2 linked regions of the Homo sapiens genome follow. The protein of the gene in region 2 interacts with the protein of the main gene of each other region in a pairwise test. Each region holds a gene or a part of one and is shown on either strand. Other genes may lie near its edges.

The links. The genes of interacting proteins can lie anywhere in the genome.
Region 1: the proteins of STAB2 (region 2) and ITGB5 come close enough for resonance energy transfer, tested with the Homo sapiens proteins (one study listed by BioGRID).

Annotation. Positions count from the first base shown.
Region 1 is NC_000003.12:124,880,866-124,884,365, forward strand, and holds part of ITGB5 (integrin beta-5 isoform a precursor), read right to left. Parts: intron 996-3,500; exon of another isoform or gene 978-995; intron 1-977.
Region 2 is NC_000012.12:103,585,952-103,590,072, forward strand, and holds the start of STAB2 (stabilin-2 precursor), read left to right. Parts: upstream 1-1,321; 5' UTR 1,322-1,525; coding exon 1,526-1,606; intron 1,607-4,121.

The DNA.
Region 1 (3,500 bases), on a different chromosome or scaffold from region 2:
TTGCAGTGAGTCAAGATCACACCACTGTACTCCAGCCTGGGCAACAGAGTGAGACTCCATCTCAAAATAAAATAAAAAAGAAAGGGAAAAAGAAAAGAAAAAGTACATATGTAAAAGTTTGTTTGTTTGTTTGTTTGTTTGAGACAGAGTCTCTGTCTCCCAGGCTAGAGTACGGTGGTGTGATCTCAGCTCACTGCAACCTCGGCCTCCAAAGTTCAAGCGATCCTCCTGCCTCAGCCTCCTGAGTAGCTGGGATTACAGGTGCACACCACCATGCCTGGCTAATTTTTGTATTTTTAGTAGAGACTGGATTTTGCCATGTTGGCCAGGGTGGTCTCGAACTCCTGACCTCAGGTAATCTGCCTGCCTCGGCCTCCCAAAGTGCTGGGATGATAGGTGTGAGCCACCCTGCCTGGCCAAATCTTTTAAATAAAGTTTTTCTAAGCCCATTAAAATCCTGGGGTGAGAGAAGGGATCATCTGAGTACCAAGCATTGTGGCTGTGTCAGGGACACAGGTAAATAAGACCAGGGCTATTAACCAGGTAGCAGGTGAGACAGACCAGCTGCAGCCCCCAGTCTCTCTAATGGAATGGGCCATGAAAGCAGGAGGAGGAGGAGATAGTTCTGCTCCACCCAGGGATGTAGGGAAGGAGAACAGGATATACTGGGTATAAAAGATCAGAGGACTTGTTCTGTCACTTATTGGTTATGTGACCTAGGGCAAGTCACTTAACCTTTCCAGGCCTCAGCTTCCTCATGCAAACAACTCAGGGAGTAGACCAAATGGCCTCCATACCAGCTCAAAAAATCCTAACACAAAGCCAGGAGTGGTGGCTCATGCCTGTAATCCCAGCACTTTGGGAGGCCAAGGTGGGCAGATCACCTGAGGTCAGGAGTTCAAGACCAGCCTGGCCAACATGGTGAAACCCCATCTCTACTAAAAATTAAAAAATAAGCCAGGTGCGGTGGTGTACGCCTGTAATCCCAGCTACTCGGGAGGCTGAGGCAGGAGAATCGCTTGAACCTGGGAGGCAGAGGTTGCGGTGACCAGAGATTGCACCACTGCACTCCAGCCTGGGCAACAGAGTGAGACTCCAATTAAAAAAAAAATCCTGACACATTCCAACAGAATCTCTTTCTCCCAGGATGTTTCTTCCTAACAAGCCGCATGCATAGTCCCTGACTTCAAAGCTAGCTGTGGAAGGCAACAGGGAGTTGAGGACGGGATGCATCGCCCTCTTCACCTCCCAATTACCAAGATTCAGGTTCATCCATTATTCATTCAACAAATATGTGCCTGGTGCTGTTGTAGGCATGGAGGATACAGAGATGAATAAAACCAACAAGACTCCCTTATTCACGGAGCTCACATCCTGGCTGGGGGAGAATTCTACTTAGGGGAAATAGTGAAGAAGATATGTAGTTACATTAGATGGTGGTGAGTGCTAAGGACAAAAATTAAAGAAGAAAAGCAGATAAAAAGAACTCGGGATATAGGGAGGAGGTTGCAGCTTTAGCTGGGAGCGGCCAGGGAAAACTTGGCTGAGCAGGAGATGCTAGAAAAAGGGTTGCAGGGTGGAGGAAGCCGGTCATGCAGATATCTTGGAGGACAGTATTCCAGGCAGGGAGAAGGGCTGCCATGGGAGCATGGCTGGCACGCTGAAGGGACAGTGGGAGGCCCATGCTGCTGGAGCAAAGGATCGAAGGGAAAGTGGTGAAGGAAAGTCAGAGAAGTAGGTGGAGAGTTCGTGGAGCCTGGCAGGACTCTGGGAAACCATTCGAAGGTTTTAAGCAGAGAGATATGATCTGACTTGAGTTGGATCTCAGGATCACTCTGAGGGACAGTTGAGAATAACTAAAGAGAACAAGTTGCAGAAGTAGGTCCCAGCTCTACAAGAGACAACCAGCTCTGAAAATGTCTGGCTGGAGTTGGGGAGGGAATCCTATAAAGAGAGGGCAGGGTACCCCGCAGTGCCTTCAAAGCATCAGCCTTAGGGGATGAGTCAAGCCTGTCTTAGAGCAAACTTTTCACCATGAGGCCCGGGAAGTAAACCCTGCATTCAACGGAAGCAAGAAGCCTCAGAAACAAATGGGTGCCTCTAAATAAAGCATTCCTTTACATTTATAGAGGCCATTAATCCCATTCGAACCGGAAAGAAGGAAAACAAACCACGGCAGTCAGTTCTCCAAGGCCCTCGGCTCCAGCCAACTGGAAATACCTGTGAAAAGAGACCCTATCCCATTAACCCAGCTGCACACTGCCATGTGAAAGGGGCCCTATTATTTAAGTAGTTTGTAATTGTCCCACATTACTGATATCGTTAAAGCATCTCAGAATATTTCCATGGCCAGGCTGAATAAGAAAAAGTAGTTACCAGGCCACGCAGGCACAAAAGGCCTTTTGCCAAACTACTTAGATATTTTAATTCCCCGTTGCCTCAGTAGCTAAATAAGCATGGAGAACAAGCAGGCGGGGAATACTAATTAGAGCTAATTAGACCCTGCCCTCTTCTGCCTCAATCCCCTTTATAAAAAGCTCCCCCAACTCAAGGATGATGGAGTTAAAATGTAAATCCATAGGATAAACAGCAGTCTACAGACCAAACCCACTGTTTGTATTTCATTGTCCTGTCAGCTCTAAACCTGTGCCTGGTTACCTACAGAGAGCTGCAGACCCAGCCAAATTCCAACAACCCCATCACAGACCACAGGAAATGTGGTAGGGGGTTGGGGGTAGAGGAAGGGTGCTGCCAACATGAGTCCACTAAATAAAACAAAGGGCTTTCTTAGGATGTGCAGAGCATTCACTAGAAGAACATTCGATTGCTTTTTTAAAAAGAAATGAATGTGATAGCACACATAATTCCAGCGGTGTTGCAGGATCCTCTTTATAAGACGGTGTTCCTCTCTCTGTCTTAGCAAAGGCAGCGTGGAAAAGCCTCACCTCAGTGAGACCCCTGGTTTTGTGGGAAGACCACATCCTAGGATTCTGTCTGAAGGCTCTTGGCCATAAGATAATAAAAAGAGCAGGAGATAGCCCTTGGTGGGGACGGGAGGGGGTTGTCAGCCGGCCAGGGACTTGTTTGAAATGAGCCCCTGAAACCTAAGGTCAGTTTCCTGCTGGAAATCCGTACTGAGATGAAAGTGGGGTTAGAGCAACAGAGAGAGGCACTCAACCACTGGTCCAGGAACACCCAGGCAGGCATGGCCCTGAGGGTCATCTCTTTCTTTTCTCTGAGTAACTAGGTTTTTTTCTTTCAAATAATGTTCCTAGTGGCAAGACAGAAACACTCCCTGAATAAAGTACCTGTAGTGCTTCAAGAAAACAAAGAAGGGAAGGGAAGCAAAAAAAAAAAAGAAAAAAAAAAAGAATGTTGAAGTTAATTCAGCAACACTGAAAAACTAGGAGAAATGACACAGATGTGAGTCAACCTCTGCTAATCCTGAGAAGCTTCAGGGCCCTAAGAGGTAAGCAGCAAGTTCTGGAGGCCAGTGCCAT
Region 2 (4,121 bases):
TTTTTTTTTTTTGAGCTCCCCACCCAGGTTTCTGGGCTGGCCTCTGAGGGGCCTATGTTGGAAAAGTTTCCTAGATTATCGGTCATTATAAATGTTGTTTCAAAAGTTGAAAGGAGTCGGGGGGAGAGAGAGAGAGAGAGAGAGAAACTTTGTAGAGAAATAAAGGATCATTTAACCAAAATTAGTATCTGTAAGTGCATGAATCTCCCATTTAATTTAGTGTCATGAGACATGCCCTGGTTTGTTAATAAGTCCAAACCTTATCCTTCCTGGTGCTGGGTCTGACACGTTTCCATCATGGTTTCCAATAGAATTGAGAATACCATCTATTATTTATTTATTCATTAAATATTGATTGTTTCAGCAGCAGAGGGCAGTGGTTGACAGTACTGGCTCTGGAGCCACATAGTTTGAATACTAGATTTACCACCTATTAGCTGTGTGGCCTTGGATAAATTCCTTAACCTCTCTGCCTCAGTTTCCTCCTCTGTAAAATGAGAAGAATCATCCTGTTTTACCAAGTACTGTGAGAATTAAACAACTAAATCCATGGAGAGGCCTAGAATAGTGACTAGCATGTAGTAAGTTTTCAAAAAGTGATGGCTACTATCCTTAACTGTTTTCATTATTTTGAAGTGCAGGTCTCTGCTCTAGGAATCAAGGGGTACAGAGAAGATGAGGCTATATTCTTCTGTCCTCAAGGCATTCATAGCTGGGCATGGGAGACAGACAGATAGATGTGACCTCGGCTTTCATGGCTTTATGTGCAAAATTGTGGGAGCATCTTCAGGGTCCTGTGGAGGGGCAGCACAGGAAGGCTTCCTGGAAGGGGTGGCTTTAGATCTGGAACTTAAAGGGTAAGATTGAACCTACAGGCTCAGTCACTTGTTACTGAAGTGGCATGGAAAAGAAGAAAGAATGAGTCAAAAACCCACCTGTCAGCATCTGCAAGGAGACTTTTTTTGCAGTAGAGGTTATCCAGGGTGAAGCCACCACCTCCTGCAAGGTTTCTGCAACATTCATTCCATACCTGGGACCGTGCTCACTTATGGGCACTCCCCCAACCCCGCTCGACAGCAAGCTTGGACCTTTGCATTGGCACCAAAAGGCCTGCAGTGTTCCATGGCGTGGTTGTGGAAACATTGACAGGGCCGCAGGGCAGCAGTAGGCAGGACTAGAGGAGGGGGCAGAGTAGAGGAGAGGCAGGACCGTTCTGAGAGCTTCGCAGGCACAAAAATCCCGGGCCAAGCCTCTGCCTCAGCCCCTGCAGGATATCCTGTCATTCAGCAGGATATATAGACCATTTACAGTGGCCAATTTCACCAAGACTCCTGGATTTGCCATTTTTCCTTTCTGAAGGCAGGTCTCACCTATCTCCTGGTTCGATCTAGGAAAAAGGAAAGGAAGGGATTTAAAAGTAAACAGTGAAATGAGAAAGAATTCACTGGGAGTTTATCAAACTAAGTTAAAATAGCTAAGTCAGCCTGACAGGTGCTTGGCACAGAGAAGGAGCAAATATTTCCTCATGATGCTACAACATTTAGTAATTTTTTGTCTTGGATTGGTTGTACAAAATTTCTGCTCCCCAGCTGAAACCACAGGGCAGGTAAGAGGAGACTTACATATTTTTTTCATTTGTTAATTGTCATGATATGTTCAAAAGCTTGTCGTTTTCCTCTGTTGTTATGGGTAAAGGGTGAAATCTGGACTTTATAAAATACAGAGAATGTTTTTGGAGACTAAGTCCTAATTGTGATGCACCATCTTTCCGAAGGTGTGCTAACCCACTTGTTGCTCTTCCTGTACTGAAGCGCCCCGCTGCTGTTGGGACCTCTAATCTTAGTGCTAACGATCCTCTTTCCAGTGCAGCTGTTGGCGTCTTGTTTTTCATTTGTTCTAGTAGTCTCATTACTGTGAATATCTACCATCCCATCTTCCTGACTAGAAAATAACTATGGCTGTGGAGAGATGGTCTGGGGAATTCCAGGGTGGATATCTCACTAAGGAACACAAGTATCAGAAATATTTCCAAAATCATCAGGCCTTCACCCTTTCATCTCTTCTGCCTTCCACAGAGCTGTAGTAAAAGTTCCCAGGGAGGTCTTACCAGTAGCCCCTATGAAGTACATCAGCACACCGAACCCTCAAGCAAGCTCACCGAGGTGTCATCACAGAGTGAGGCCAGCTGTCAGTGAGACACCATGTGATTTCTGATCCATCAAGAATGAATCTTAACCATGATTCTGCACCTGTGCCAGGCAAATTTTTATCAACACCAATTTTATTACAGTTGGCTGCATGCTCTGATAATGTTTTCATGAAAATATGGGAAGATGGCCTAATGGCTAAGTGCTCCAGCTTTGAAATTTGGTAGGGGTGAGTTTGAACTGTGGATCTCATTTTTCTGTTTAACAAATAGGTCTGAGGATCAGTCATGATCGTCCACAGCTGTTTGACCCTGAGCACGTTTTTTAATCTCTTCAAGCTTCAGTCTCGCCCCTGACAGTGCTCCACAAATGGTAGTAATTATCATCACCATCATCATCTTCTTAATCACCATCATCATCATCATCATTATCACCAAGTGTTTGCATTCACACAGAAATCAGACCTTAACTAATTTAAATAAGCTGAATTTACTTTTCAGAGAGGACAACTTTGTCAATACTGTATGAGACAGACAATGAGCCTTTTCATTTGAAAAGGGCAATTTGAAGGTCAAGATGTTTCTTAAGAAGAGGGTTTTAAATCTAGCCCACAAAGAAAGAAAAGACAAAGTACTGTAACCCCACATACTTATCCAAATGTGAAACCCTCATGTAAAGAAAAGCTTGCTTTCAAAAAAAATGTGAAGGTGTCCTGACAATTAAAGGAGGTTAATTCAAACTCTATCTAAGTGTAGCTTTTGTTATTACTCAATAAAGAACCTTCTAGTGCTATTTTGGTTCATGATGATCACCAAATGAAAACTCCTGGTAAAAATAGAAATTTCAGTTTTCTATACTCCACTCAGGTGCAGGAAAGAGAAAGGGCTAATCAAGGAATCACAAGACCAGTAACTCACAGGGTGACCTTGGGCAAGTCACTGCAACACCCCTCACCTCAGTTTTCTTCCAGCTAAAATGAGGATGATGATACCTGCCCTACTTATCTTCAGAGCAGTGAAGATCAAATAAGATAATACCTTTGAATGGATGCATAACCAATAATCGTTCTGAAGATGTAAAGTTTCTTTTTATGCAGGCTTTATATATTTCAATGAACTTAGAAGCAGTGGTGACATTTCCACCACGACCAACCTATTATTAGGCCCGTGGATGAGCTGTGGGATAATACAGAAGCATGAGACACAATCCTGCCCAAGAAGAAGCCTACCTCTTTCTGCTCTGTCCTATGGCCTAGAGCAAACCTGTTCAAAAAGCAGGGCCTCAAAATGTGTTGGTAATGTCTTTTTTGATTGGCAGGTCCTTTCTGCCTTCCCAGGAAATGCCTGGATTAGACTCCTTGCCCTGGAAAGGTCAAGGTTTGGGGTTCAAGAGATCCTACCCCTTCTCTCTACTAACTGCTCTATGCTCAGTTTTACCTCAGCATGTTGGCACAGCATATTTCTAAGAGTTTAGCAAATAAGAATCAGGTGTCTTTTAATGGAGTGCAAAAACCAACAAAATGTGCTCCACTGGGCCAGCCACAGGAAGAGTAGAAGTTGAGAAAAGGAAGAAAAATGAATGTGGTTTTGTGAAAGAGGTGGTGTGAAACAGGGTCTTGAAGGATATGGTTCAGCAGCCCAGTGAGAACATGGCAGTTAGGAGAGGAAACAGGCACAAAGGTGAGTGAAGAGTTACAGCAGCCAGCATTCACCACCTGTGATACTTCAGACATTTTTGCCAGGAAATTTGCACCTGCTTAAGTGACCGTCATCATTTAAAGGTCTCAATAACCTCAAGAGTGGTTATTAATATCTCCTCTTTATAGGTGATGGCAAAGGGTAAGCAATTCATTCAAGATTGTACACTTAGCAAGATATAGAGTTTGACTCCAAACTTAGGTCTTTTGATCCCCAAGTTTAGTCTCTCTTTGTTGTACAAAGCTGCTCCATCTTAAGCTTGATGAGGAAATGAAGA